Linked DNA regions of Homo sapiens: all the other regions are linked to region 1. The links come from fine-mapping of genetic effects on gene expression. A gene starts in region 1. Each other region holds a variant in brackets. All regions are shown on one strand. Distances are from middle to middle. Region 1 holds the start of PLEKHH2 (pleckstrin homology, MyTH4 and FERM domain containing H2). Region 2 overlaps PLEKHH2 (pleckstrin homology, MyTH4 and FERM domain containing H2). Region 3 overlaps PLEKHH2 (pleckstrin homology, MyTH4 and FERM domain containing H2).

The links. PIP is the estimated chance that this variant, and not a neighbour inherited with it, causes the effect.
Region 2: its variant is fine-mapped to the expression of PLEKHH2 in tibial nerve (GTEx, PIP above 0.99). The same link has a PIP of 0.9 or more in aorta, cerebral cortex and sigmoid colon.
Region 3: its variant is fine-mapped to the expression of PLEKHH2 in atrial appendage (GTEx, PIP above 0.99).

Annotation. Positions count from the first base shown.
Region 1 is chr2:43,632,016-43,642,378 of GRCh38, reverse strand. It overlaps PLEKHH2 (pleckstrin homology, MyTH4 and FERM domain containing H2), which reads right to left and starts at 5,119. Exons shown (of 30, transcript NM_172069.4): 1 at 5,000-5,119. RefSeq lists a silencer at 4,886-5,215.
Region 2 is chr2:43,705,921-43,716,283 of GRCh38, reverse strand. It overlaps PLEKHH2 (pleckstrin homology, MyTH4 and FERM domain containing H2), which reads right to left. Exons shown (of 30, transcript NM_172069.4): 10 at 9,868-9,962; 11 at 8,739-8,883; 12 at 6,158-6,294; 13 at 5,954-6,064; 14 at 5,709-5,795; 15 at 3,901-4,059. Among named protein-coding and RNA genes, the nearest start is that of C1GALT1C1L, 35 kb to the right of the region's middle. RefSeq lists a silencer at 1,060-1,259. The variant G/A (reference allele first, on the strand shown) is at 4,535.
Region 3 is chr2:43,720,669-43,731,031 of GRCh38, reverse strand. PLEKHH2 (pleckstrin homology, MyTH4 and FERM domain containing H2) reads right to left here. Exons shown (of 30, transcript NM_172069.4): 16 at 10,283-10,363; 17 at 4,581-4,760; 18 at 1,287-1,395. Among named protein-coding and RNA genes, the nearest start is that of DYNC2LI1, 48 kb to the left of the region's middle. The variant C/A (reference allele first, on the strand shown) is at 5,476.

The DNA of each region.
Region 1 (10,363 bases):
CTAAGGAATCCACAAAAAAATACTAAACTATAGAGTTTAGCAAGGTTTCAGGAAATCAGATCAACATACAAAAGTCAGTTGTTTTTCTATACACTAGCAAGGAAAAATCCAAAAATGAAAATAAGAAAATATTCCATTTACAATAGCATCAAAACTAATAAAATATTTAGGAATGAATTTAACAAAAGAAGTGCAAAATGTGTGCACTGAAAACTACAAAACATCACTGAAAGAAATTTAAAAATACCTAAATAAATGGAAGAAATTGTATATTCATGGATTAGAAGACTTAATATTGTGAAGATGGCAATACTTGCAAATGGCTATATACACACAATGCAATCTCTATCAAAGTTGCAACTGCATTTTTTGCAGAAATTGACAAGCTGATCAAACTTTGCCTGGAAATTCAAGGGCTGAAGAATAGACAAAATAAAATTGAAAAGTTGGAGGACTCACATGTTACTATTTCTAAACTTACTACAAAGCTATACAGTAGCTTGATTACACAGTGTGGTACTTGCATAAAGATAGATATATAGATAAACAGAATAAAGTTAAGTCCAGAATTAAAGCCTCACATTGATTTTTGGCAAGAGTGATAAGATCATCCAATGGGGGAAAGAATAGTCTTTTCAACAGATGATGCTGGGACAACTGGATATCCATATGTAAAAGAATGAATGTGGACCCATACCTCATACCATATATACACAGTAACACAAAATGGATCACAAACTTACAGGTACCAGCCAAAGCTCTAAACCAGGGGTGTCCAATCTTTTGACTTCCTTGGGCCACGTTAGAAGAAGAATTGTCTTGAGCCACACATAAAATACACTAACACTAAAGGTAGCTGATGAGCTAAAAAAAAAAATTGCAAAACAAATCTCATAATGCTTTAAGAAAGTTTACAAATTTGTTTTGGGCCACATTCAAAGCCATCCTGGGCTGCCTGTGGCCTGCAGGCCACAGGTTGGACACGCTTGCTCTAAACTCTTAGAAGAAAAGAGGTATAAATCTTCATGACCTTGGATTAGGCAACAGATTCTTAGATATGACACCTAAAGCACAAGGAATCGAAGAAAAAATAGATAAATTGGACTTCATAAAAATTTTTAAATTTTTGTCCTTCAAAGGACACTATCAAGAAAGTGCAAAGATAACCCACAGAATGGGAAAAATAGTTGCAAATCATGTATCTCAGGGATTTGTGTCTAGAATATATAAAGGACTCTTAGGACTCAACGATAAAAAAAGATAACCCAATTAAACAATGGGCAAAGGCCTGGACGTGGTGGCTCATGCTTATAATCCCAGCACTCTGGGAGGCCGAGGCGGTTAGACTGCCTGAGCTCATGAGTTTGAGACCAGCCTGGGCAAGGTGGCAAAACCCTGTCTTTATTAAAAAAAAAAAAAAAAAAAAAATTAGCCAGGCATGGTGGTGCAGGCCTGTAGTCCCAGCTACTTGGGGGTTGAGGCAGGAAGATCACTTGAGCCCAGGAGGTCGAAGCTGCAGTGAACCATGTTCACACCACTGCACTCCAGCCTGGGCGACAGAGGGAGACCCCGATCTTTAAAAACAATAATAATAATAAATTAAAAATAAATAAATAAAAATGGGCAAAGTATCTGAATAGAGATTTATCCAAAGAAGATATACAAATGGCCAATAAGCACATTATTTGCTATGAGAGAAAATGCAAATCAAAGTCACAACAACATTCCACTTCACATCAAATAGGATGTTCTAATGAAAAAGACATCTAACAACAAGTGTTGGTGAGGATGTAGAGAAATGGGAACCCTCATACATTGTTGGTGGGAATGTAAAAATGGTACAGCTGCTTTGTAAACAGTTTTACAGTTCCTGAAAAGTTTAAACAGGCCAGCATGGTGGCTCACGCCTGTAATCCCAACAGTTTGAGAGGCTGAGGTTGGAGAATTCATCTCTGAGGTCAGGAGTTCAAGACCAGACTGTGCAACATAGCAAGACCTCATCTCTATCAAAAAATTTAAAAATCAGCTAAGCGTCGGGGAGCTTACCTGTGGTCCCAGCTACTCGGGAGCCCTGTGTGGGAGGATCACTTGAGCAGTGAGCTATGATCATACACTGCACTCCAGCCTGGGTGACAAGAGTGAGACACCGTCTCAAAAAAAAAAAAAAGTTTAAATATAAAGTTACCAAGTTATTGGAGTAACTTTATATTTGGTATATCAATATAAAGTATTGGTAACTTTATACTTGGCATTGGAGTTGCTGGGTCATATGCCAAGGGATGGGGTCATATGCCAAGGGATGAAATACACATCCACACCAAAACTTGTAAATAAATGTTCAGAGCAACATTATTCATGATAGCCAAAGAGTAGAAACAGCCTGTGTCCACCATCAGATGAATGAATAAAATGTAGTAGATCTGGCTGGGTGCAGTGGCTCACTCCTGTAATCCCAGCACTTTGTAGGGCAAAAGCAGGTGGATCATCTGAGGTCAGGAGTTCAAGACAAGCCTGGCCAACATGGCAAAACCCCGTCTCTACTAAAAATACAAAAATTAGCCAGGCATGGTGGTGCAGGCCTATAATTCCAGCTACTAGGGAGGCTGAGACAGGAGAATTGCTTTAACCCAGGAGGCAGAAGTTGCAGTGAGCTGAGATCCTGCCATTGCACTCCAGCCTGGGTGACAGAGTGAGACTCTGTCTCAAAAAAAAAAAAAAAAAAAAAAAAGTGGTACATCCATACAATGGAATATTATTCGGCCATAAAAAAGGAATACAGTACTAATACACGCTATAGTCATGGAAGAGCCTTGAAAACATTATGCTAAGTGAAAGATGCCAGACACAAAAGGCCACATATTGTATGAGTCCATTTACATGAAATGTCCATAAGAGGCAAATCCAAAGGACAGAAAGTAGGTTAGTGGTTGCCAAGGGCTGTGAGGAGAAGGTAGCAGATACTGACTACAATGGATAGGGGGTTTCTTTTTGGGGTGATGAAAATATTCTAGAATTAGATATTGGTGATGGCTATACAACCTTGTGAATATACCAAAACCCAGTGAACTGTATACTTTAAAAGGAAAAATCTTATAGTTTGTGACTTATATTAAGATCTCAATAAAAAAGATCACATATTTACAAATGACTAAAGAAAAAGTCGCAGTTTAAATGGATGTATACTAGGACTGCATTTACAAATTTAATCAACCATTATTTGTGGTTATCCCTGCCAAGAATTTCACAATTAGCTCAAAAAATTGAGAGGTAACTGTTAACCCCAAATATGAAAAGTATCATACATATATCTTACCTAGCGCACTTTGCTATGATGACATAATAAATTAATTCAAAGTCAAACATACCTATTTCTTTAGTTATGCTAATTATATATTTTATAGTGAAGTAGCAAAGCCTTAAGAATATTATTAAATTGGCATTTAACATCTACATTCCCTATTAATGGGTCATAATAAATCAGAACTGCAAATTGGTTGGATAATGGTCTGCACTGAGATCCAGACACCTGATTCCCTCATTTCATTCTGTAATTTCAGTTAGTTAACAAGTACAAAGCAACTGTTGTATTAGTGCACCATCTTGGGTAGTTAAAAATTCTAATTTTAAACAATATCCGCCATCCTTTTCATTACCACTAATGTTATAGAACTATATAACATTGGGAATATATATATAACTATATAACATAGCCGACTGCTAAATAAAGAAAATACCACATATAGATTCTGAATTTGAAAGGAATCTATCATGTCTAGATTCTGCATTTGAAAATAATCTATCTTCACTTCAGGGGACAGGAAAAAGTCTTGGAGTTCCAAATACCCCCAGTGATTTTTGGAAGTATTTACTGACATAAGATAAACTGTTTACAATTGTGGAGTGAATGCTCTTTTCTCTGAATCTCTGACTTCCTGTTTCTCTTCCAAATCCCAAAAAGGAAAGAAAAAGAAATGAAAGAATTATTCTACTTAGGCTTACCCTGATGAAGCGCAGCGTTAGTCTCTATGATATTCTTTAGTTTTTGCCTCTTAAGGGACAGCTTAACTGGGCTGGGTAATCGTGTGTGTGAGTGTGTGTGTGTGTGTGTGTGTGTGTGTGTGTGTGTGTGTTAAAAGATCTTTCTCGACGAGACTGAGGCATGCCTTGTTTAAGGAACCTTCTGACCACCACCTAGCCACCTAGCCCCACTTGGGCAACGCCTGCCCTTCGGTGACCCTGCCCAGAACAGCCGAGCTCCTCACTACATACTCCTCTGGGACACACCGCTGTGCGGGCCAGGCTTCCAAGACTGGCATTTTCACAAAGAAAGCAGTGACCCTCAGGTAGCCCACCACCAGAGCTTTTCCAATGTAAGTGGTTCGACTTCTATTTCCACAGCGTTACGCACAACAATATCGACGGGTAAAAAGTGTTGTCCTTTAAAAAGTGCCCCACTAACTTCGGGGACAGTGGTTTCCGGGTAGGTCACCTTAGGGTGCTTTGACGTGCCAGCAACTCGAGGTGTACAAAATGCTTCTTTAAAGTTTTGAGTTTAAAGTTTCGCCCCGGAGATCCTGGTGGATCTCCCGAAGCCTAAGGCGAGCGCGGCATCCCTGACCGCGCGGGTCCCTCGGCTCGGGGACCCTGGGCTGCCCCGCTGCGCCCCCGGGACCGCTCGCGCCGCGCCAGAAGCCCGGGCCCAGTGTTTCCAAACAGAACGTCACGGGAGCCCACGGGCGCGAGGGACCGCCGGCCACCGCCCCCTGCCCACCTCTCCCGGCGACATCCAGACTTGGGGGCCGACTCTGGGCTGTGGCGGGAGGTGCAGCGGCGGATCCCGAGTCAGCCCGCTCCGTCCCTCTCGTCCCCGCCTTCCCGCTCCTCCCGGCGCCCCAAACCTCGGCCCCGCGAGCCCCCCTGGACGGGGCGCCCTCAAGGGGGCGGGGATCCCAGGGTGGCAGGAACTCTGGAGTGGCCCCTCGTCCCCGGGCTTTCTCACCTGTCTATCTCAGCAGCGGGTCCCCGGCCGCAGCGCCCGATGTCCCGGCCGCGACTGGCCCCCGGGATCCCCGGACTCTCAGCCCGCGCCCGCCTCAAGCCGAGCTCGGAGAGGGCGGGGAAGGGCACCGCCTCCTCCAGGGACTGGCAGCCGGTGTAGCCAATGGGAGACCACAGCCGACCACCGGGCGTCACCGGGGGTGTGGCTATAACTTTGGCTCCTCCCAGTCCCTGCCCCAGGAGGGAGCTCTGTCCTGGAGTGGTACCCCTAACGTCCCAACTGCGAGACTCCAGAGCTTGCTGCAGCGGCCGGTCACCTTCATTCCACTCCGTCTGCCTGGACTGTTGCAGCACCCTCCCTTGGTCTCCCAGTCTGAAGTCTCTCCTCTTGCCAATCCACCCTTCATCTTCCTGCCAGGTTAATTTCCTTAAGAGCAGTTTTGATGAACAGTGTGCCAAAGACTTTCATTGGCTTCCGTTTGCTTAAATTATCAAGAACAGATTCCCTAGTCTAGTGTTCAAGGTCTCCATCCCGTCTTTTCAGGTTTATTTCTCACAGCTGCCCTTCACACACCTGAGACTACTGCTGTGCACCTCGCCACCCGAAGGAAGTGGCACTAGGAGCGTTTACATGCTATTTCCTGTCTCCACTTCAAAAAGCTCAGAATAATCTTCTCACCGGGCGCAGTGGCTCACGCCTGTAATCCCAGTACTTTGGGGGACCGAGGCAGGTGGATCACTTGAGGCCAGGAGTTCGAGACGAGCCTGGGCAACATGGTGAAACCCTGTCTCTACCAAAAAAAAAAAAAAAATATATATATATATATATATATATACACACAAAAAAAAAAAATTAGCTGGGCTTGGTGGCGCTCACTTGTAGTCCCAGCTACTCAGGAGGCTAAGGCTGGAGGATTGCTTAAACACAGGAGATGGAGGCTGCAGTGAGCCGCGATCATGCCACTGCACTGGATCCTGGGCGACTGGGCGAGATCCTGTCTCAAATCATCATCATTATCATCATCATCATCATCATCATCTTCTCCATGTAACTATGTCTGTCGCTCCACCTGGCAGAAATGTCGTCTCTGGGCCGGGCGCAGTGGCTCATGCCTGTAATTCCAGCACTTTGGGAGGCCGAGGAGGGCAGATCACGAGGTCAAGAGATCGAGACCATCCTGGCCAACATGGTGAAACCTGGTCTGTACTAAAAATACAAAAATTAGCTGGGCGTGGTGGTGCACGACTGTAGTCCCAGCTACTCGGGAGGCTGAGGCAGGAGAATCGCTTGAACCTGGGAAGCGGAGGTTGCAGTGAGCCAAGATAGCACCACTGCACTCTAGCCTGCCTACAGAGCAAGACTCCATCTGAGACAAAAAAAAAAAAAAAGGTCTTCTCTGGTTTCTGCTCCCTGAACATCTAGATTTTTGCCTCTCTTGGGGCTTAGCTCCCTCTGCCTTATGCACAGCTCCTCACATCTCTTTTAGACTGTGAGCACTTTGAAAACAAGGATTTGTGGTTTTTTTTTTTTTTTTGCATTCTCCTCAGCACAGAGCATATTGCATAAGTAAATTAGTGATAATTTAAATCCAGGTGAATTTTACATCCCAACTTAGGGTCTGGAGAGGTCAATCTCAGGGTAAAATAAAGAGAATTCTGAATGTTATGGATAATCGTTCCCCAGGTCACAAAGCTAGGTCAGACAGATTATTCTCTTTGGTTCACAGTTGGCCAATAGAGAGTATCAGAAAAACTTTTTCTACTACAATCTTTTTTTTTTTAACTTTATCTCATCTTATATAAAACACACACACACACACACACACACACACACACACACACACACACACACAGAGGATGGGCACAGTGGCTCATGCCTGTAATCCCAGCATTTTGGGAGACCAAGGCGGGCAGATGACTTGAGGTCAGGAGTTTGAGACCATCCTGGCCAACATATCGAAACCCCATCTCTACTAAAAATACAAAAATTAGCTGAACATGGTGGCATACGCCTGTAATCCCAGCTATTCAGGAGGCTGAGACAGGAGAATCGCTTGAGCCAGGAAGGCAGCAGTTGCAGTGAGCTGAGATCGCACCACTGCACTCCAGATTGGGTGACAGAGCAAGACTCTGTCTCAAAAAAAAGGAAAGAAAAAACCACAAAAGAGATAAAGATTTTCAAAGTTTCTCAGAGGAAAAGCAATAAGTGAATACAACTAAAAGTCCAGTAAGCAAGTATCAGGCTTTCATATTTCTTCCAGATGAGCATTAATTTTGAACAGGATCCCAGACTACCCCCACACATCAAATTCCTTTTGCCTTCTGTGGGAGCTGATGATGCATATCATATGAAAAATTGTCTTCAAACAGCTTTGGCAAACAAGCAGACTGGACTGGGCTTATTTTATAGAGCACGCAGGAGTTAAACAAACAGAGTTTCAGTAACTTGCATAATTTAACACAGCAAGTCAGTAGAGACCAAGCAGGAGAAAGAGAGAAAGAATGCCAAAATAGAATCACTTCCGTTTGTGAGTCAGAAATACTAATTAGACTAAAAGAACTGAGTGAATAAAGTCACTCATGAAAAGCCGCTTTGTAAACACGGCTGCCACCCTTGTAAGGCTTAGCCAATATTTACTTACTGTCACCTTTTTCTAGAAACATGACAAACTGAATTTGTCTGGGTATGGAGAATACAGCGGAACAGCATCCTATCTTTGTCTATGCTGAGAAAAACACATGGTACAATGGAATATTATTCAGTGGTAAAAAGAAATAAAGTACTGATACATGCTACAACATTGATAAACCTTGAAAACATTATACTTAATGAAAGAAGCCAGTCATTTAAAAGGCACATACTGTAGGATCCCATTTACATGAAATGTTCAGAACAGGCAAATCCATAGAGACATAAGTGGATTGGTGGTTGCTTAGGGCTGGGAAGGATCGGGGTGATGGCTAAGACAAGTGAGGTTTATTTTTGCGATAATAAAAACATTTATGGTGATGATTACACAACTTTGAACATACAAAAAGCCATGGACATACGCAATTTAAATGGATAAACTGGATGTTATTGAATTATATCTCAATAAAGATGTTTTAAAAAAGAAAAACATGTTGAATTTTGTGTTTTTACGTTAGGTAGCAGGGATAGAAAATGTTAGTAGCAATAGGCACCTTTGTTTTATAAGCATTAATCTAAATTGTGATATTATGTTTATTTGTGATTATTTTGTCTGTTTTCCCCCCCACAAGACTGTAAGTGCCAGAAAAGTAGAACAACTGTTTTTGCTCTTTAATGTATATCCAGTATCTAGCAAAAATCATAAGTCAAACCACCGTAAATCAGGAACTGTTTATACATCTCAACTTCTTTCAAGAAATTGAACCTACAAGGTCTAACAGCTGATTAGAAGGCGGATTAGAAGGGAGGCTTTGTGTCTGCATTATCAGGAAATGATGGTGCCATTTACAAAAGTAAGGAAGCAAGGAGAGGGAACAAGAAGAATGAGATCTGGCTTGGAGGTACTGAGCACAACTTGAGGTGCGAGTGAAATATCCAGGAGAGAGCCAAGAGAAAATCAGTCAGGCTGAGCTGGGGAGAAGGTTTGAATTTGGGTGTACATTTCAACGTATACTTCTGCATAGGGGGAGATTACTGTAAATTGTAGAATGATTGCTGGCCATGTGGCCATTTGGCACATTGGGAGCAAGGACAGAGGGGTTGAAGGGAAAAGAGGTACGGAGCTGGGTAAATATCAGGGAATAAGTATCTGATCCTTTAATCCACCACACATAAAATCCAAAAAGAAAGAAGGAGGGCGGAGACACTATCTCCACTAGAATAAGCTTGTGGCTTCTGGCACGGAGAAAGTATAAACCCCAGCACCTGGGAAAAGATATCAAAGACAAGGGGAAGATTTGGAAAAATGAATAGAGCTAGCAGGAACAGCTCTCTCTAGCTGAGGAGGGTACAGGTCTGGGCACTCCAGGCTGTTTACCTGCAACCTAGGAGACCAGAAAAGCCTTGGCATGAAGGAGGCCCTACAAACAAGGAGACAGACAAGCATCCTGGCCCTCCCAGTGGGGGTGGACCAGGAAAACAGTTTCTTTGATGTGTCCCCAGTGTCCAGAGCATACTGGCTTGCTCAGTCCTTTGGGTCTGCAACGAAGGCAGGATTTGCTTCAATCTCACCTCCCCAGGTGAGCTGGGCCCCCACTATCACAGATTGGTTGGGGGTAGCATAGGTGGTGCCAGAACTGGTGAAGGTGAGAGACTAATGGGCATTGCTAAGGTCATGAAAAGAAAACAAGTGTGTACAGAAGCATAACAAAAGCACAGAGGTGGGTACTTTGAGCACCACTTATTTTAAGGCAACTGAAAAGAGGAAAAGAATTGTTGAACCAGACTGAGGGAGAGCCAGTAATAGTTTGTTCAGGACCCATGAAGTTAAAAAAAAGAAAAAAAGACACTGGACATTAAAATCACACAGGAAAGCTGGGCAGGGTGGCTCACGCTTGTAATCCCAGAACTTTGGGAGGCCAAGGAGGGCGGATCACGAGGTCAGGAGTTCAAGACCAGCCTGGCCAACATGGTGAAACCCCATCTCTACTAAAAATACAAAAAAAATTAGGCAGGCGTGGTGGCATGCCCTTGTAATCCCAGCTACTCAGGAGACTGAGGCAGGGAGAATCACTTGAACCTAGGAGGTGAAGGTTGCAGTGAGTTGAGATCTCACCATTGCACTCCAGCCTGGGTGATAGAGTCACACTCTGTCTCAAAAAAAAAAAAAAAAGAAAAAGAAAGAAAGAAAAAGAAAATCACACAAGAAAACAGTGATCCAGACAGTAAAAAGGTGTTAAATGTGAACAGATTATTTTTCTTGCTTGGGGTCAGTACCTACCAGGCAAAGGCAGCCATTCTGGTACAGAATCTTATTACGGCTGACAGCTAACAGTCCTCCTTCTCTCTCTATATGGTGCATAGAGACAGCTTATGCCAGAATTAAGGGAACAAAGCAACGCAGCAAAACTGACCACGATATCCCCTGATGCTAACGGTTAGAGAAAAGACACACTATAAGAACATTATTATGTGCTGTGTAATAATTGTAAAATGAAACTGCGTCTTCAAAAGACTCCAGAGAAAGCTGAGGTCAACAGGATGGTAACAAGTACAGAATGCTCAATGGGGAGGCAGGACTTGAACTGGTTAATCAGAAGGATCTGGTTACTGCATTGTTAGGGTTAGGGTGAGGCAAGGTCACAACAGGAGGCACTAGCCTGTGAGCACGAGTGAACGGATGAATGAATGAATGATTGATGGTGGTATTCACGAGGGAGATTGAGCCGTCTTGCC
Region 2 (10,363 bases), 74 kb before region 1:
GTGTGCCTTCCCACTATGTCCAGCCACCCACTTCTTCTGGACTTTGTCTTTAATCCCCCTCCTCCCTTCTTCCAGGGGCCTTCCCCTTAGTTTGTGAACTCAAGGTACATCTTTTCCACCCTAAAAAATGCCTCTCCTGACTCCAGGTTCCCTCCAGCTTGATTCTAACATACTGAAAGGTATAGATAGTCCTTGAAACTCAAATACTTCACTTATTAATCTCCCATTTACCCTTCAACCCACTGAAGGCAACGTACCTTCTTCTCTGAGCACATGTGACACTAGATCAGTCACAGGCATTACTCTCAGACCTCTGCACACATCTCCTTACTGTGCCCTTAAATTTACAAGTGTTACCCTGCTCTCCCCTGCCCTACATAATTTCCCATAATTGCCACATGTATGCTGATGATTCCTCGAATCCTTCTCTCCAATCCAGCCCTCCAGCACTCTTCTCCGATGTAGACTGGTGGTCTGCTGCCTGCTGGACTTTTTAACTAAGACATCCTACCAGCTCCTGATGTCTTCCAAAATCACCTAATCTTCCTAAAACTGCTCCTCTTTCCTGAGCTCTCTCTTATCTGCTATCATCTTTCTACCAGGCATCTTTATCTCTTCTACTTCCTAACCCCAAATTCAATCAAACTAAAGATTTTACCTCTTACCATTATTTAAATTCATCCTCTCCTCTCTTTTCCTGTAACCCCTTCAGAGTTTCATCCTCTTCATAGGAACCACTCCCTTAACTGTTCTTAGAACCTCCACCTTGCCTCCCACTGATTCATCTTCCTCTTAGCAGAGTAATCTGTTAGCAACATGAATATGCCCATGCTCCTGTTACAAACCCTGCAGGGTTTCAAATATCCTTCAGGATAAAGACCAAAGTCCTTAAAAAGACAAAAATAGCTTTCCACCATCCATAGGCCCCTCTAGCTTTTTCTCCAAAGGACTTGTTCCTAGTGCAGCTGGCACTGCTTCGAGATTTTTTTTTTCTTTTTTTCTTTTTTTTTAGACGGAGTTTCATTTGTCGCACAGGCTGGAGTGCAACATTGCAATCACAGCTGATTTCAACCTCCATCTCTCAAGTTCAGGCGATTCTCCTGCCTCAGCCTCCCGAGTAGCTGGGATTACAGGTGCCCGCCAGCATGCCTGGTTAATTTTTGTATTTTTAGTAGACGGGTTTTCACCATGTTGGTCAGGCTGGTCTCGAACTTCTGACCTCAGGTGATCTGCCTGCCTCAGCCTCCCTAAGTGCTGGGATTACAGGCATAAGCCACTGCTTCAAGACTCTAAGCCTTCATTCGCGCTGTCTCCTAGCCTAGAGTACCACCCCTCCACCCATTCCCACTTGGTATAACTAACTCCTACTCCTCCTTGAAGACTCGGCACAGGTAAATCTTCTCTCAGAAGTCATTACTGACACATCTCAATAATTGTACTTTATATCATTGTAAATAAGCTTTTGTCTCCCTCTTTTTTAATAGATTATGAGGCTCTCTGAGGAATGGGACAGTGGCCTATTCATCTTAGTATCTTTCAGCACATTGTGCTGCATGTGGTAACTGCGTAATACATTTTCGTTTTTTAAAGAACTGAATTTTTATATAGAAAATGTTTTTCCTAAGCATTAAAATAAAAATTGCAAGAGTGACTGTCTAGAATCAAATTAGTCAAGTTCTTAGCATCTACCTATATTATTCTGTACTTAATAAAAACAATGTGACAACCTGAGAAAACTTCCTCCCCTCCAAGGTATTCAAATGCAATTTGACAGTATCTCATATTGCAGCCTGAATGTGAGCTCAGAACAAGTCACTCAGAATAACTGAGGGAAGCTGTTCTCTCATAAGGTTCTAAGGGTGAAAATATGGGGGTGGACAAGCACAAATGGCAGGAAGGAAACTTAATAAGCATCCTGGCTATAAACCCTAATGATTTAGTCATCTGAGAATCCCATCGACTCATACTCATTTAAAATGCAATTGTGAAATGGGAAGTGGAGAATCGCAGAAATGTTATAGGAGCAGAAACTGACATGCCTTGCTGATAAAGTAAAAACAAGCAAGCAAACAAAATCCTAATTGTGGGGGAAGTAATAAACCCTTAGCCATGGGATCATCTTAAACTCTCAGGGTTTGATATGCATATGAGGTCCTTGAAACAAGAGCATAGCTCATTATTATGAATTATAGTAAGAATGTGATTTAAAGTAGCAGTGTGTTCACTGGAAAAGTATTGTGCAAATATTTTGTTCCCTAACCCATCAGTAACTAAGAAAACATTTTCACAGTCGTATTTTAGAAAAAACATAGTACATAGTATATTTCTTTGTTTAATGCAATAGTGAATTAAGTTTTACCTTTGCTATAGTTGGTCAGTCTTTTTAAATATTATGGAATAACACCCACCTACATTCCCACATTAATAATAAGTATAAACTACACAGTAGCATAGTTACTTTCCATCTAATTTTCCACCTCTTACATAATCAGAGTACATGAATGAGGAGTGATTATGTGTGTATACATATTTTGTTGTATTTTTCAAAAAGTGACCAATAGGACTTTTTAAAACTTAAAAATAATATTAAGTCAATACTTACTCATTGTAAAAAAAAAAAAAACAGAATTAAGCAAAAATAAATAAAATCACAGAGATAACCAATATACTTTGGTATATTTCCCAGACATTTTTCTATAAATACTTACAACAAATAAGGTATAATAATGTAATACTGCACTCTACTTATTACCTAACAATACATCATATTTCTATAGCATTAGATATTCTTTTACAACATTTAAAAGGCTGCATAGTAAAGCATTATATGGTTGTACAAACATTTTTTAAAGCTATACCTTACCCTACATCTAATTTGATCCCAATTTTTCTTTATTATGAACCATGCTGTGCAAGGAATCTTTCTGGGGTAATGGAAATGTTCTGCATCTTGATAGAGTCAAAAGTAAATAGCTTTCAAAACTAGTCAAACTCTACACTTAAGATCTGTGCATTTCAGATATATTAATCATACCTCATTTTTTAAAATAGGAAAAAAAACATGCTGTGAGGAACATCTCATAATTAAATCTTTTGCAAATTAAGACCACTTCCTAAGGATAAATTTTTAAAACTGAGATTGCTGGATCAAAGGAGATATATATGCGTGTGTGTGTGTGTGTGTTGATTTGATATTGATTTGTTCACTCAAAATTATTGGCTAAGTTAACACTTCAGCCAAGATATTGCCAAACTGCCTTTTAGAGTAATGCTCTCACTAGCAGATTTCTTTTTTTTTCTACTGCCTATGTAATTGCAGAAACTAGCAGATTTTTTAATCTGTGTCAATACTAGGTTTCAAAATTTGTAAAAACGTCTTACTTTTCACCAGATTTTAAAAAGTGCCACCTCTTATTTCAATCTGTGCTTTTAAAAAAATTGAGTGACAGTAAAATGTTTTTCCATATGCTTATTGATCATTTGTATTCCTTCTAACCTCGATGATCTCTCTTTCCTGCCCATTGAGTCTTTTGTTCCTTTTCCCCCAATTGGTGTTCATTGTTTGCTTACTGATTAGAAAAAAACGTGTTAAATATTAATGATATTAACCAGTTTTCACATGTTTCAAATACCTCTTCAAAGTTTTTCAATCCTTCTTTTAAAAATTCTGCTCGTAGAATTTTTAATAGAGCCTTTACATTTTTACATATTATAGTCAAATTTGTCTTCTTTTCATCTTTATAGTTTTTGCCTTGGGCATCATACTTAAAAACACCCTTTCCTATCCCCAAGATCATATCAATATTCAATATATGTATATGCTCTGACATCCCATTTTCAGCGATCATGGGCTCATGCCCATAGCTGCCTGGGACATTGCTATGCACAGGAGGTTCCTACCTTAGTGAGCAATCCCTTCATGGTGGGTTTGCCCTCAGGCTGCAGGGAAAGTGGGTTGGCAGCTTGTACTCGAAGAACATTCTGTAACACTTTAATCCACTCTTCCAATATATTGGGAGAATCTGCAGTCAGATAGTATGTGTGTTTTTCAGTGGTCAACTAGAATGCAACGAGAAAGGTATAGGAAAGAAAACTGTGAAGATTTAGGATTGTTAGCATTTCCTTGTTCATTATTCAAACGTCATTACTTAACACAGAAGCAAACATGCTAAATCTCAAGTCCCAGTTTCTAAATAAATGACTCCATATCAGTTAGAATATTTTAACCACTTTGTGAGAATTACAGCAATTAAATTTTTGTGGAAATAACTTTGTTACTCCAGTTTACCTAATTTTGGGGTTATGATTTTATATCTTGTTTATTTGTCACATTTTCCCTTTCTTGCTTAAATGTGTTACAGGTTCCTACTTTTCTTTTTTTTTTTTTTTTGAGACAGAGTCTCTTTCTGTCGCCCAGGCTGGAGTGCAGTGGCGCCATCTTGGCTCACTGCAAGCTCCGCCTCCTGGGTTCACACCATTCTCCTGCCTCGGCCTCCCGAGCAGCTGGGACTTACAGGCACCTGCCACCATGCCC[G/A]GATAATTTTTTTTGAATTTTTAGTAGAGACGGGGTTTCACCGTGTTAGCCAGGATGGTCTCGATCTCCTGACCTCATGATCCGCCTGCCTCAGCCTCCTGAAGTGCTGAGATTACAGGCGTGAGCCACCGCGCCCGGCCAGGTTCCTACTTATTGAAATGAGGAGCAGAATGATTAAAGACTATAATAAAATAGCATAGTTTTAGCAACTAAAGAAGAGGTTTCTTAATACAAATGACAAAATCAACTATAAATAAAATAAGAAGATCTTGCATATAAGAAGATAAATTATTGGAACGAACATGTGATTAGATATTATGAACTCAGAATGTTCCAGTCTCAAATTAGCCACACTGCAAATTTTCCAAATTTCAGAAACTTACAAATGATTCTTAACTGCCATGCCCAAAGACAAAGCTTTCCTTGATTCTCCTTTCTAAATTTTTGAGAGGTTTTCAGGTACAAATCACTGGAAACATTGATAATGTACCTTTCTGGCAAAGTTGTCCTCCACCCTCCAAAGGAGCAATATAAGAAAATAATGGTTATTGAAGACATTTCAGAAATAAAGTGTCTGACTTTAAATTACATATACTAGAATATCTCAACAGCCTGTGTTTTAAATTTAACAGATTTCTGGCAAGACTGGCCTTATGTGTGAGTAAAATGGGCAGCAGCTGCCCCTACAGTGTGACTTGCTTGGCAGCACACTCCCTCTGCTCACCAATATATTTCCCACTTTGGTGTTATGGCATCTGAAGTTCATATAAGAACTGTCATTTTCAGATTCTATATTAAAATACAAACATTCCTGAATTTCACAGTACATTATATAACTAACATCTTATTGAGAATTCATTTACCAGATAACCCTTCCTTAAAATAGCTTCACAGTTGGACAGCTGAAAATACCTAGGAGATTAAATATGAGGAAAGAAGAGTATAAAGGAAGAAAGGTAAAGTGTGGTGGGAGTTACTCAACACACACCTAACTTACATTATAGTTTTAACCAAAAATTCGTGGAGTTTCACATACTTCCAAGGCATCAAACTAACCCCCCAAAGTGAATAAAGAAACACTGAATTATCCTATCTCCTTTCCATTAGGTTGGATAATTGAGAATTGAGTCTGGCATGATACAAAAAAAAAAAAAAAAAAAAAAAAGTTAAGTACCTGAACTGTTTGTTTGTTATCTCCTCTTAAAATACTACAGGATGCACTAAGTTCAATATGGCCCTGGGGTTTTCTAATTACATCACTCTGTATGAAACAGAAAAACAAATGGAAAGTGATTAACTTTAACAGTAATAATAAGGAATGCTTTGTATCATTACTTGCATTATGGGAAGGAAATCAATCAGGCGTCTGATTTATAGTTTGAGGAATTACGTTCTAAACAGAAAACACTTTCCACTCACCGGAGATTTGTAGTAAAGTAATTCACCACCTTTAAGAACAAACCACCGCCGCTTCCAAGACTTGACTTTACCACTCATTTTTAATAAATAACCAGATTTTTCCAGTGGTTCCTAATTTTTAAAAGATAGACAAAAGCATTTTCAGTTTCCTTTTGGAGGCTCAATCTGACTGACTGCTTTTTAAAAATCATATTCAATATTTACATTTTTCCCATTATCACTGGAAGATGAGCAAGTTTTTGGGAGCTTCTGCTCTGGCTGTGAGTACTCCGTGTCTGTGGAGTAAGCATCAGGAGGAATAGCATAATCACTTTCAGAAGCCACAGAGGAGAGAGACACACCTAAGAGAACAAAGAAAGAAATCAAGTCAGTATTTAATACTGGGGAGGGCCAAACACCAGCTCTGAGTGCTCCTACAGAATGCAATTATTCCTAAATCATAAGCCTCCCTAGACTAGATTTATTCTCATTCCTTTGGCCATAAATAACTTTTTTTGAGACAGAGTCTCGCTCTGTCACCAGGCTGGAGTGCACTGGCACAATCTCGGCTCACTGCAACCTCTGCCTCCTGGGTTCAAGCGATTCTCCCGCCTCAGCCTCCCGAGTAGCTGGGGCTACAGGTGTGCGCCACCACGCCCAGCTAATTTTTGTATCTTTAGTAGAGATGGGGTTTCATCATGTTGGCCAGGATGGTCTCGATCTCTTGACCTCGTGATCCGCCTGCCTTGGCCTCCCAACATGAAGAACTTTTAAAGCAGAAAACAGAACTAAGAGGTAGGGACTGTCATGTAAATCTCTAAGGAAGTGAAAGGAACAGGAATAATATTTTGGTATGATTACAATCACACAGCTATTTTACATATATAAAATATATGCAAGAGTCTACTCATGTATATTTTATTAAGAATTAAAAATATGTGTATTTACACATTGACATATAGGCAAACAAATGTTGAACCTTAATTTATCAAGATTTTCACAATCACATTTTAAATTTCTTAACTTCTGTAATCACTTTTAAAGTAACCTCACATTTTAAAAAAACACAATTCAGTAGTATTTTTTCATTCAAGTTCCATAAGCTACTAAGCAGTTTACAGATTTTAAAAATATTTCATAAAAGAGAAACAATAAGATTGAAAGATATAAACAAACTATTTCTTTCACTTGCCAGCAGCTATAACATAAAATTCAATGGAACATTTATACAATGATTCATTTGCCTTTACAGAAAACTACCTGGGAGTTGCAAGCCACATTTCATGAGTCACTACAATTGGAGATTTAGAATATATTAAATAAAATCAAGGACTTAGGTAATTATTTATAAAAGTATCCAGCAATTTTTAAAAATATGTATTAACATTTAAGGGACATATTAGAACAATGCCACTCTTGTGACACTGCTTTTTATTTGACTCAGACAAGTAACAGTTGCTATAATATCTTCATTTTTCATAGAATAAACAAAAATGTAGACCTATAGGGACCTCAGTGATTGTCATGGCTAAGGCCCAAGGAGACTAAGGCCCAGAGATTAAAGGATTTGTCCAAAGTCAAAGAGTTAGGCAGGGGCAATGTTGGAACACAAGTCTCAGGCTCCCAGGACCAGGGCCAGTGTGCCAGGCACTGTCCTAGATGCTAGGGATAGAGCAAACAACAAAAATATTGGCTCTCGTGGAACAAATTCTAGCGGAAGGAGACCACTGACAAACAGGCAGTAGGTGGTATGGAACAATAAAACATAGAGCAGACTAAAGGGAATAAAAAGAGCTGGCAACAGAAGAAAGACAAAGGGCTGCAATTTGAGTGGTGTGGTCAGGGTGGACCTCATTGAGAAAGCAGCGTTTGCTGATGGAGGTGAGGGAGTCAGCTATACGGACATCTAGGGGAAGAATACCAGCTGGAGGAAACAGCAGTGCCAAGGTCCTGAAATGCAAGCATGCCTGGCATGTCTCAGAACAGCAAGAGGGCCAGTGAGACTGGAGCTGAGTACAGAGAAGAAAGGAGATGAGGTCAAGTACGTGACCGAATCCTGGAACACCTTATAGCCGTTGTGAGGAGCCACTGCAGTGTTTCCAGCAAAAGTGTGTCATAACCTGATTCTGGCTGTAGCGGGGCAAGTTGAGAGCAAGAAGACCAGTGGAAGCTCAAAATATGAAACCAAGGAAGGCTGAGCAGCTCCAGTTGAAGCCGAGGGGATTGGAAGTATCCAGAGGTTCCATGGAACACAGTTTGAAAGCCAACAGACACACCATGCTGCATTAAGGGCTTTTTATAACATACAGATGTCATTTGGTGGAATTAGATCTCTCTGTAACCACTACCTACACACAGAATGTCTTCAAAATCCACTAAAAATCATAGACATATTCCAAGTAAATGTTGTTCTCCACTTTAACATCAGATTAATTGACAAATTTTAAGGTATATTTTCTGCCAGTTAGCAGTGTAACAACTTTAGCTGAAATAAGTCTATTTCACAAATGCCAAGAAAGAAACCTCATTTTGGCCAATTATCTCACTTCATTCCAACAATAAAGTGATCTCCCTCTCACAGACAATAAAAAGCTGAAAAAAAAAAACTATATAATTTGTCTGAAATCACAGAGAATTAAGAAGAGAATTAGGAATATAAACATATCAGTCATAGGCTAAAGTTCTTTTCACTAGGGTCTGAAGCAAGTTCTTGGATTTAAAAAATAATCCTGTAATGGAGATAAAATTCCCAATTAATATTCAGAATGATCTGGAGTTGCCTCATATGCCTGCGATTTTCCCTCACCTCGTTTCATGGCTCTGGGGCTGCCTGGCCCACTCCTACTGCGTGAGTCTGACTCTGACGTCCGGGAGCTGGATCTGGAGCTGTCTTCTTCCTCTGACCCAGATGAGTCATCCAGGAAAGGGCTGCTACTTATTTGGGTCGCCTTCTAAAGAAAAGTGGAACAACCTCCCTGTATCCATCCCTAATGTTACCACTCATCCAAGAAAAGGCTGCTAGTTATTAGGGTCGCCTCCTAAAGAAAAGCAGAGCAACCTCCCTGTATCCATCCCTAAGGTTATCACTCTTTTTAGATAACAGAAAGTTTTACAGGAAGAAGTCATAGCATAGAATTTTTTTTTTTTTTTTTTTTGAGGTGGAGTCTTGCTCTTGTCACCCAGGCTGGAGTGCAATGACATGATCTCGGTTCACTGCAACCTCCGCCTCCCAGGTTCAAGCGATTCTCCTGACTCAGCCTCCTGAGTAGCTGGGATTACAGGCACCTGCCACCACGCCCGGCTAATTTTTATATTTTTAGTAGAGACAGGGTTTCGCCATGTTGGCCAGGCTGGTCTCGAACTCCTGACCTCGTGATCCGCCCGCCTCGGCCTCCCAAAGTGCTGGGATTACAGGCGTGAGCCACCGTGCCCAGCCAGCATATGATTTTTAAAAGGAATTTGGGAATGTATTTTGCTGTTATCAAAATCATGTTGTTAAACCCTGAATTCTAATAAGCAATTATAAAAGATGCCTGAAAATATAAGGTTGTCAATACCTGCAATCCTTCTTTTAATTAATACTTCAAGCAAGGAAGGGGTACCCTGGCACTGATACAAAGATCTGCCTAAATTAGGAGTTTTCATTACATTATTAATAATATGTCTCCTTTAAACAATTCATGGCCATGGGGAGGTGGGGGAATCACATGGGACACAGTAAAAACTGACTCAGACCTCTAACATTCTGATAAGTGTCTTCTGCAGACCTTTCCATTCCTTCTTTTTTATGATATGTTAACGTGAACTTGTAAAACTTTCTATAAAGGGAGAGCCTGTGTAAAATGTTAAGAATGGAATCTGGAGCTTGAATTAACAATTTCCTTGATCCATCATGAAGAGAAGCACATGTTTTAACAATAACAATAATGAGTTACCCCCTTCAAAGTTGTATACACTGGGGTGGTCATGTTCTTGTATATCAGAGATGTATAAAGTCCTGATGTAGTATAGGAAAGGGTTGCAGCAGAATCTGAAACAGAAAAACAGGAAACAACATTTTAAAAAACTTCTAATTAGCACATTGGTCTTTTTCTTATGAATACAAATGAGCATAATCTCCATTTAAAAAGCAATTCGATTAATACATGATTACTAACTGTATAGTCTACTTTACAGATTATGGCATTTACAGGTTTATTTATACACTTTTTTACATGGTTCATTATTTCCTCATGTGTGCTAGTTCCCCAACTAGACTGCAAGCTCTTTGAGAGCAAGAACCATAGCTTTTATTTCCTTGAAATCTCCATGCATGCTTTGCTCAGGCTGGGCAGAACTAAGTACAGGCAACTGCTTACCAACCAATTCAGTAAGCAGTACATAGGAAGATATTCTCTGACTATTCATAACCCTATTACCAGCATGGTATCA
Region 3 (10,363 bases), 89 kb before region 1:
TAGAAGAGTTGGGTCCTAATTTACTAGGCTGCAATAAGTCTACCAGGGCACTATCACGTTGCTTAAATGTGCTAAAGATTGGTGACCTAGGTAGGGGGCATGACTATATATGAGAAAGAGCTGGGGAAAGATCTAGAACTTCTCTAGAGAGGAGAAGCCAAAGTAGAAAGAGATATAAAGATAAAGAGGAACTTGAAGGCATTCCTAAAATCAACATTTATTAAATTCCTGTGTTGGACACAGCAAATAAAATGTGGTCTCTCTTAGCGTATAAAGCATAGGATAGAATCTAGTCTCTCAGTGGGGGAACCTTAGCCATAAAAATTCATTTCAGGCCAGGCACAGTGGCTCATGCCTGTAATGCCAGCACTTTGGGAGGCTGAGGTGGGTGGATTACTTGAGCTCAGGAGTTCGAGACCAACCTGTGCAACATGAAGAAACCCCATCTCTGCCAATGATACAAAAATTAGTCGGGCATGGTGGTGCATGCCTGTGGTCCCAGCTACTCAGGAGGCTGAGGCAGGAGGATTGCTTGAGCCCAGGAGGCAGAGGTTGCAGTGAGCGGAGATCATGCCACTGCACTCCAGCCTGGGTGACAGAGTGAGACTCCGTCTCAAAAACAAAACAAAAACTTAATTTCAATGCAAAACTACAAATGCTATAAATCTTTTGGCTTCCCTGGGCCACACTGGAAGAAGAATTGTCTTGGGCCACACATAAAATATATAAACACTAATGATAGCTGATGAGCTTAAAAACAAAAAACTCACAAAGAAATTTTGTAATGTTTTAAGAAAGTTTATGAATTTGTGTTGGGCCACATTCAAAGCCATCTGGGGCCACAGGCCACCTGTGGGTTGCAGGTTGGCCAAGCTTGCTATAAAAGAATTAAGTGACAAAACGCATTAGGACATAATTTTAACATTGATGAAGCACCTTTTATGAGCCAGATGCTGAGCTGCAGAGGGCTGGCTGGGGGATCTCCTAAGGCTAGGTGGGGTTTCATTATGTTGGTGAGGACTGCCAACGAAGGGGGCATTCCAAGCAGAGGAGCAGTGGAAGCAAAGGCAGAGGGAGGTGACCTGACACAGACTAATGAGGAATGATGGTGTCCCTGCAGCCAAAGAGCCACAGACAGAATTCTCTCCCATGATGAGCAAAGGCAATGAAAAGGTGGGTATATTTCAGGGAAACAGGAACCCATTAAGTGAAAACTCCATTAGGCTAAGCGGGTTGAGGTCCATTTCATTAACCATAAAGCTTTATTTATATGTTTATGAACTTACAAGGCTCCCCGTCTATATTTAGCAATTTGCAAACCAGTTGTTCAAATTCAGATCCAACGTTTACATTGTTGCTTCCAGCTGCAACAGTCAGATGATAAAGCCAAGTGTCCTTAAAACCAGAACATATTAATTAAATGTTAAGACACAGTTTTGATTAAAGAAAAAAAAACAACTTGCATAAACAGTAGAAAACTTTGAGATGGAAATGAACCACTTGCTTTAATTTTTAAATAATAATGAAAAGCCATTTATTCAAACAATTCTGAGGCATGCTCACTTGAACTGTGTTTATATTACCTTTTCCCATTATTTACACTTTTCTTATTCAGATGCATTTTAGAAAAGCATGACAAAATTAAGACGAGTAACACATGTTAAGAGACTAAATACAACCAGCTGATATTCTTTTACAAAATAAATAAATTCTATTAAATTAAAAATCTGGCTCCCAGAGTGATACATACAGAATATTTTGGAAATCCAGAAAATTTAAAGAAAACATAATACCCGTCTTATCCCATTCACCAAAGATTCCTGGTCTTTTTTTCTCTATGATAATATATATGTAGATTAAATTTTTACATAGTTGAATTATTCTGAAAGTAGAGGATAATTTCTGAATTTTAGTAATATAGTACAAGCACTCCCTTGTTGCTAGAAATTCTTTATAAACAAGTTTTAATGGCTGCAGGATATTCTACTACACATATGGACACACCATATTTATTTAATCAATTTCTTATTGCTGAACATTATGATGGTTACTAACTTCTCACTGATAAAAAATACTGTGACAGCTATCATCTGTTAACTGAAAAGGAAATGTTATATTTTCCATCTTTAAAATACTTCAAAAATAAAATTATTTTAAAAAGAGTATTGTAGGCCGGGCACGGTGGCTCATGCCTGTAATCCCAGCACTTTGAGAGGCCAAGCCGGGTGGATCATCTGAGGTCAGGGGTTTGAGACCAGCCTGGCCAACATGGTGAAACGCCGTCTCTACTAAAAATACAAAAATTAGCTGGGCATGGTGGTGCATGCCTGTAGTCCCAGCTGTTCGGGAGGCTGAGGCAGAAGAATCTCTTGAACCCAGGAGGCGGAGGTTGCAGTGAGCCGAGATCACGCCACTGCACTCCAGCCTGGGCAACAGAGTGAAACTCTGTTTTAAAAAAAAAAAAAAAAAGAGTATTGTGTTGAACAAACTATACATAAATTTTTGGCTACATTTACTAACATTTTCTTTTTCTTTCTTTTTTTTTTTTTTTTTTGAGACAGAGTCTTGCTCTGTCACCCAGGCTGGAGTGCAATGGCGCGATCTCGATTCACTGCAACCTCTGCCTCCAGGTTCAAGTGATTCTCCTGCCTCAGCCTCCCAAGTAGCTGGGATTACAGGAACCTGTCACCACGTCCAGCTACTTTTTGTATTTTTAGTAGAGATGGAGTTTCACCACATTGGCCAGGCTGGTCTCGAACTCCTGACCTCAGGTGATCCACCTGCCTCGGCCTCCCAAAGTGCTGGGATTACAGGCGTGAGACACAGTGCCTGGCCAACATTTTCTTAGTATATATTTTTTGAAATAGAATTATGAGTCATTACTAGGGCGAGAAAACTTTTAGGAACTCTTGAAACATATTTTCAAAGTACTTTCCAAAGCATTTACACTAATTTCTATTCTCACCAGTGGTATATAGGAGTGCTTCCCTCCTCATAGCTTCACTAGCATAATTTTTTAAATCTTTGATAATCTCAGAGACAATAAAAGCTTTATCATTTTTAAATGTGCGCATCTTTGATTACAGATGAGCGTAAGCATTCATTAGCCATTAAATTCCTCAGTAAGTTGTTCATCAGGCCCTCTTTCCATTTTTCTACTAGAAACATAGTCCTTTTCAAATCATATGAGAGGTAGCAGAGGCAAGTGTTCAGGAACACAGGCTCTGTGGTTAGAGATAGGGGTCTAATATCAACTCTGCCTCTTGCCAGATGTGTGACCACAGGAAAGTGCTTCAGTCTTTCCATCTATAAATGGGAATAAGGTCACCTCCCACAGAGGGTAATTGGAAGGATGAAGAAGAGATATACTTAGCACTTGGCCTGATACATGTGCTCAAAAACAATGATCAATAGTAACAATAATAATCTATAAAGAGTTGTTTATATGTTAAGGATACAGTAGCCATCCATGAAATATTTTGTTTTCTGTATTATCTTTTTAGTCATATTTATGATAATATTTGACATAAATAATTATTTCAATTTTGTATAGTCAAATCTATCAACCATTTGCACTCTGATTTCTTACACTGCCTTTTTGTTTTTGTTCTTTTTTTTTTTGAGACGGAGTCTCGCTCTGTCGCCAGGCTGGAGTGCAGTGGTGCGATCTCAGCTCACTGCAACCTCTACCTCCTGGGTTCAAGCGATTCCCCTGCCTCAGCCTCCCAAGTAGCTGGGATTACAGGCACACGCCACCTCGCCTGGCTAATTTTTGTATTTTAGTAGAGACAGAGTTTCACCATGTTGGCCAAGATGGTCTCGATCTTCCTGACCTTGTGATCCACCCGCCTCGGCCTCCCGAAGTGCTGGGATTACAGACGTGAGTCACCGCACCCAGCCCGCCCTTTTGTTTTCTTAGAAAGTACTTCTGATTCAGAACTCAGATAAAGGCCTTTTTAAAAAATAATTTCATTGAATTCTTTTAACTCTTTAAATTCTGGAAATTATTTTGCTATCTGTATGAGATGAAAATAATAATCTGGAAATTATTTTGCTATCTGTATGAGATGAAAAACTAATGTTTCCTAAGTAGCCAATTTCCTCAATATATAAGAAATACATAATCATATGTATTGAATGATATATTACTTCCCCATTAATTTGTGATACCTCCTTTATCATAAATGACTACATGTACATATAATACATAAAATAATTAATTTTCTACTGTATCTAAGGCCAAATTTTATTAAAAATTAGTCAAAAATATAAAACAGAGTCCTTAGATTTACCAAAAAATGTTCAATCTGAGAGATCCACATTTTTAACATAAGTTCCTTTAGCCCTCCACTTCCACGCACTAATTTCAGCCTTGATACCACTCTTACCAACAGGATTAGAAAATGACATATTTGAACGAGGCTCATTTCCAGGGAGGTAAAGAATCTCTGAAAACAGAGGTGAAAGTCTATAGCAAAATTTTCTTCCTTATTTCCATTAAATTGATTTGATAATTATTACCAATATCTGAATAATATTAGTCTACATCATTCTAAATCAACCAATAAGTCTTTGAATACCTTTTCATGCTTGGATCCAATTAGGAGGTAAGTTGGACCTTGGTCTTTGGGATGGATAACGATAGTATAATGTGTGGATAACAGACTTCGTCCACTGGCTTCATAATCTTCATCTGAATCACAAGATCTGTCAACCTCTTCCACTTTAGCCTCCCAGAGTTTGATCTGACCTAAAGGAAACTAAAGTAAATATTAGTAATTGTGAGGAAGGCATTTTCTAAATCTTTTCCTACTAAAACATTTCATAGTCCTTTTCATTTTTAAATTTATAAAGCATACCTTTAAAAATTTTACTTTATTTTTTATTTTCCTTTTTTTTTTTTTTTTGAGACAGGGTTGGGTCTCCCTCTGTCTCCCAGGCTGGAGTGCAGTGGCGCAATCAGTAACCTCACTGTAACCTTGAACTCCTGGGCTTCAGGGATCCTTCCATCTCAGCCTCCCAAATAGCTAGCACTACAGGCACATGCCACCATGCCCAGCTAATTAAAAAAAAATGATTTTTTTTTGGAGATAGGGTCTTGCTACATTGCCCAGGCCAGTCTCAGACTCCTGGGCTGAAAGAATCCTCCTGCCTCAGCCTCCCAAAGTGCTGGGATCACAAGCGTGAGCCACCGCATCAGTATAACATACCTTTTTAAAAATGATGCCTAGAGGCAATTTGATTATCCACAGTGTAACAAAAGTAGTGGCAACAACCAAAGAGCCTAAAAGTAATATGAAAGAACCATATACATATTAGAGATTTAACTTCTGAGGAAAAAACAAGATGCTACTTTTATGCAGTAGTTCAGATGATTCAGCTGTACTAAAATTCTTATAGGAGGCAGAAAGAAATTATTTAGATAGACAGTTAGGGTAAAGCAAGTCCCCAGCAGAAAACTTTCCTTTTTAAAAA[C/A]GCAGCTCAAAGATAGCTCCTTTTCTAACCCCAGGCAGTTCAAGGAAATCACTTCTCTTCTAACAACAAGCAGCCTGAAAGAGCAGACAGTGAAACACAGATAAGACAGCTTCGGCACAGAAGGAGGGGGGAAGGTCTCCTGGGTAATTACCAAACTCCACACTTGTACAATGGGCCCCCCAATAAAACAGTGGGCCTTAATAAGCACATTCTTTTCCCTTTGGACACACTAAGATAGAGAAGCTAAAAGCAGACTAGAGGGGGTGCCTACAGCTGCAAGAAGATGGCAACAAACACAAACTCTCCCTCCCAGATAAGCAGGACAAAGAAACACAGACTAACAGTCAGCCTATGTGGTTACGGAATGAGACAGAGCTGATAAAAAAAACTCTGCTCTGTACAGATAGCACACCTGGTTCCAACTAAACCATCAGGAGGATAAGATATCCCCTCCTTACAAGCTCCCTCCTCGCTAGCCCATTTATAAAAACCCTGACATCTTTACTACAAATTGGCAACCCACTCGGGACCCTTCTCTGTGATGGAGAGGTGTTCTTTCCTTTTGCACTATCTACTAAACTCCTGCTCTAAACTCACTCTGTCTGTGTGTGTCCATGACCCAGATCTCCTTGTCCTTGAGAACAAGAACTTTGGTATTTACCCCAGACAATGAGGCTGCTTCAAAATGACCCATTATTTAGTTAAGCAACTAGTCATAATTCACCAAAACAGTCATTTGACTTTTTTATCCCACAGAATTGATCAGCAATTTGATTAAGTTATTGGATCAAAAGGACAAGTGTATACATAGTCTCAAAACTGCTTATTGAAAAGAAAAATATTGTTCCTAGAAAAAATAACAAGATTAGATAGGTAGTGCAAAACGAACTATCATCCCAAATGCCAGTAAAGGAGGAGCATTCCAAGGCTCTTTGTTATATATCACAAAACAATACCATGAATTTCTCCATCTTAAGGGTAAGAAAAACTTCCTAAAGCCAATTTATATTAAATTTTATCTAAGCTTTTATTGACAAAACCAACTATATCTGGTGTGTTGAATATTTGGCCTATCTGTTGTAAAACTTTTGCTCTAATTTAGTACCTTTATTCCAGGAAAATACACGGTCTGCATCAGATTTATAACTTCTAAAATATTTGGCCAAGTTTGCAATTGGAGTTTTGAAAAAGTTCATTCTAACTACAAGGATATTTACCTCACACGTTTACATGCTAAGTTTCAGGGCTCAGTGCTGGAGCCCTTCTTCCATCTATGCTCACTCTCTGGGTGACCTCATCTAAGCTCATGGCTTTAATACCAGCATGTTAGCTACTCCCAAATTTATAACTCCAGACTCACTAACTCTACTTAGATGTTGGATAGCATTTCAAACTTAACAGCATTTCAGACTTACCTTGGTAAGTCCTCCTTGACAACCTGCTCTGCCCAGTCTTCCCCATCTCAAGTTGTTGGCAATGTTACTTTTCTATTAATAGCTATTAACACCCAAAACCTTGGCATCATTGCAGTCTCTCATACTGACTTTTCAGTCAATAAATCCTGTCAACAAGACTTTCAGAATCTATCTAGAATCTGTTCATCTCTCACATGTCCACAGCACCACTAAACCACAATCCCCTCTCACCTGGATTACTGCAATGGCTCCTAACCCATCTCCTCCTTATTCCCTCCGGTCTATTCTTAATCAGCAGTCGGCGTGTGCCTGTTAGACACAGGCAAGATCATGTCCCTGTTCCGCTCAAAGCCCTCCAGTTGTTTGTCATCTCACTCAGAGCAAAAGCTGAAGGGTGGCAGAATCTGCCACCCCAACAGATATCACTTTGGCATAAGGGTTATTTTGAACTAAAGGCATTTTTAAAAGCAGCAGGTGCAAGAAGGGTGTTCTGACCCTCTGCGTTTTCTTCCCAAAGGCAGGAGGGAACCTGCCTTTCATAACGCCTATATGAAAGATATCCTCCCTTTACCAGAAGGAAAGTAAGATTCTTGTCAAGATGGGAAGCCGAAGCCTGGGGAAAGTTATACAAACAACCCTTGTTAAACTTAATCTTATCTTCCTCCTCACTTCTCCACCCAAGTAACTACCCCAGCCCAAGTCTCTTTGCCTTGTCACATTTTCACAATTTACTACACTTTGTCCAGTTTGGTGTATAAGTGTTCACCTTTATGTCTTGGAGTCTTCATTGCCTTAGGAAGGCTCCTCTGTGATGTAAAACTTAAATAAATGTATATGTTTCTCCTGTAATCTGTCTTAATGTGAATTTAATTCTCAGGCCTGCCAAAAACCCTAAGAAAGTAGAGGTAAAATTTCGCCTCTCCTAAAAAGCAAGCTTTTAATAATAGGATGAAGAAAACAAATTCTATTAATACTATGATAATACATAACAATACTAACCTAATTGTGTACTTTAGGCACAATGATATGAAAATCTAGGTTTCATCCACCCTAATATTTAAAGATGGTTATTCATTTTACCAAAGGATGCACCATGCCTTGATAAGCAGCAAACAGACCTAGTGGTTTCAAATATTTTGATTTAATAAAAAAAGACATTGATACAGATTAAAAGCAAATTCTTTTGGAAATATTTATAGCAAAAAATGAAGTAGGCCTATAATGATTCACATATATTCTCAATACTTTTCCAGTTGTTATAATGGATTTCTGTTTATGTATCCATTCTTCTGACTTGTTTCTTCTGTGATCAATGCTATCCATTTTTATTAAATTATTTTTCTATTTATAAAAACACATGCTTATTACAGAAACTTGGTAAGTATGGAAAGGATTTTAAAAAGAAAGAAACCATCCATATTACTGTGATCACAGATAATTATTTTATTTAGATGTGTCAGACTGAGATTTATAAACTTGGCCTTCCAATCACCATCCTCTAAGATCTCATAATTACAGAGAAATTGGGAACTGTATTTGCCAGAACCTCCTTCCCTGTTATGGTTCCCAGTTAGAGTTTCCTGTGAGAGAATCTACTTGAAGTTTAGAAGGAGAGGGTAGAAGAGTTGTTATTCTCCTGGGACTACGGTGGCTGATGTTGGGGCTCATGTAAGATTCACTGAAGCTTCCCAGTGAAGCCTCGAGGACCAGCTGCCTTCAGTCCTTTGGCCAGAAATCTTCAGTGTTGTCTTCTCTGACCTTCATTGGCAGTTTCCCTAACTTTTACCACTCCCATACAACTTTTCTAAAAGTTATGTAAGTTATAAAACTTCTCTAATATTTACGTATGTCCACAATTCTATATTAACATTTTTTTTTTTTTTTTTGAGATAGGGTCTCACTCTGTCGCCCAGGCTGGAATGCAGTGGTATGATCACAGCTCACTGCAGCCTCAATCTCCTGGGCTCAAGCAATCCTCCTGCCTTAGCCTCCCAAGTAGCCAGGACTACAAGCATGCATCACCATGCCTGGCTAATTTTTTTTTTTTTTTTTAGTAGAGACTAGGTTTTGCTATGTTGCCTAGGGTGGCATTAGATCTTTTACACCTGTAACACGTACAGTGGCTTCTGTTTTCCTGACTGATGAGTTAGGATTACATTGACAGCACAATTTTGTATTGTACATATTCGGGTAGCATTTGTATGTCGGCATTTTCCCACACTACTTCAGAGATTGTTTGTTTGTTTGTTTATTTTGAGACAGGGTCTCATCCTGTCACCCAGCCTGGAATGCAATGGTGCGAATCACAGCTCACTGTAACCTCCACCTTCTGGGCTCAAGTGAGCCTCCAACCTTGATCTCCCTAGTAGTTGGGACTACAGGCACACACTACCACACTCAGCTAATTTTTAAATTTTTTGTAGAGACAGGTTCCCACTATGTTGTCCAGGCTGGTCTCAAACTCCTGGGCTCAAACGATCCTCCCACCTCTTGGCCTCCCAAAGTGCTGGGATTATAGGCATGAGCCATCATGCCTGGCCTCAGTATTGTTTTTAATGGCTGTACTGCGTTAATCTCTACCCCATTAGCAACACTGAGTATAACGGCATGTATTTTAAATACAGCTGGTCAGACCTGAGAGTGTAGGCTATCAAAAGGGAAGGAGAAATACTAACTGTCCCATGTGGTCACTAGACCAAGAAGTTTAGTCTCATTAACACAGTAACAGTCACAGGCTGCTCTTCAGAGGAGCAGTCATCATTATGTTATACAAGTACTCGTGGCCCATGTTGGTTCAATTTTTATAGCTTCAGTTATCCAAAGGTGACACAGAATACCCATAATGATGACTGGGCATGCGTTTTACCTTTGGGCAGACACCCCATCTTTTTATTCTGAAATTTAAAATAATTCAGATTCTTTTGGGGAGGGGATTAGTTTAAACATTAATAAACAGAATATAAACAGGCAGATGGATGGGTAGATAAGCGGTATTCGGGAATTTGAGGGCTTGGGACAGAAATAGATTCCTTTTCCTTTTTAGGTTTTCTTTCCTAACTTGCTGCTTCCTTCTATCAACCTTATCTGGTCTGTAAGAACCTGGGAAAATATAAGAAACTGATGGTTGTGGGGAGGGAATAGAAGAAGACTGTTCTAGGTCTTAGAAGATGCATTAATTAAAAGTTGCTAAGGCTTGTAATTAAGAATCAAGACCCTTGTAGGTGTAGGTGATAGACCTTTGTGTGATTTTCTCAGTTGCACCAAATTATACCAAATTTCAACCTCATAAAGATTCTGAAGTTTTACAAAGTAAGAGAAGAGAGAAAAGGAAAAGTTTAAGCCCTAACACACAAAAAGTTACTTCAATTGGCATATTAAAAATACATACATACCTTATCTTCTTGACTCCGAAAATAATATAATGTCTTTCCTATTAGTGTACACCAGACTCTCTTGGAATATCCATGTTTTAC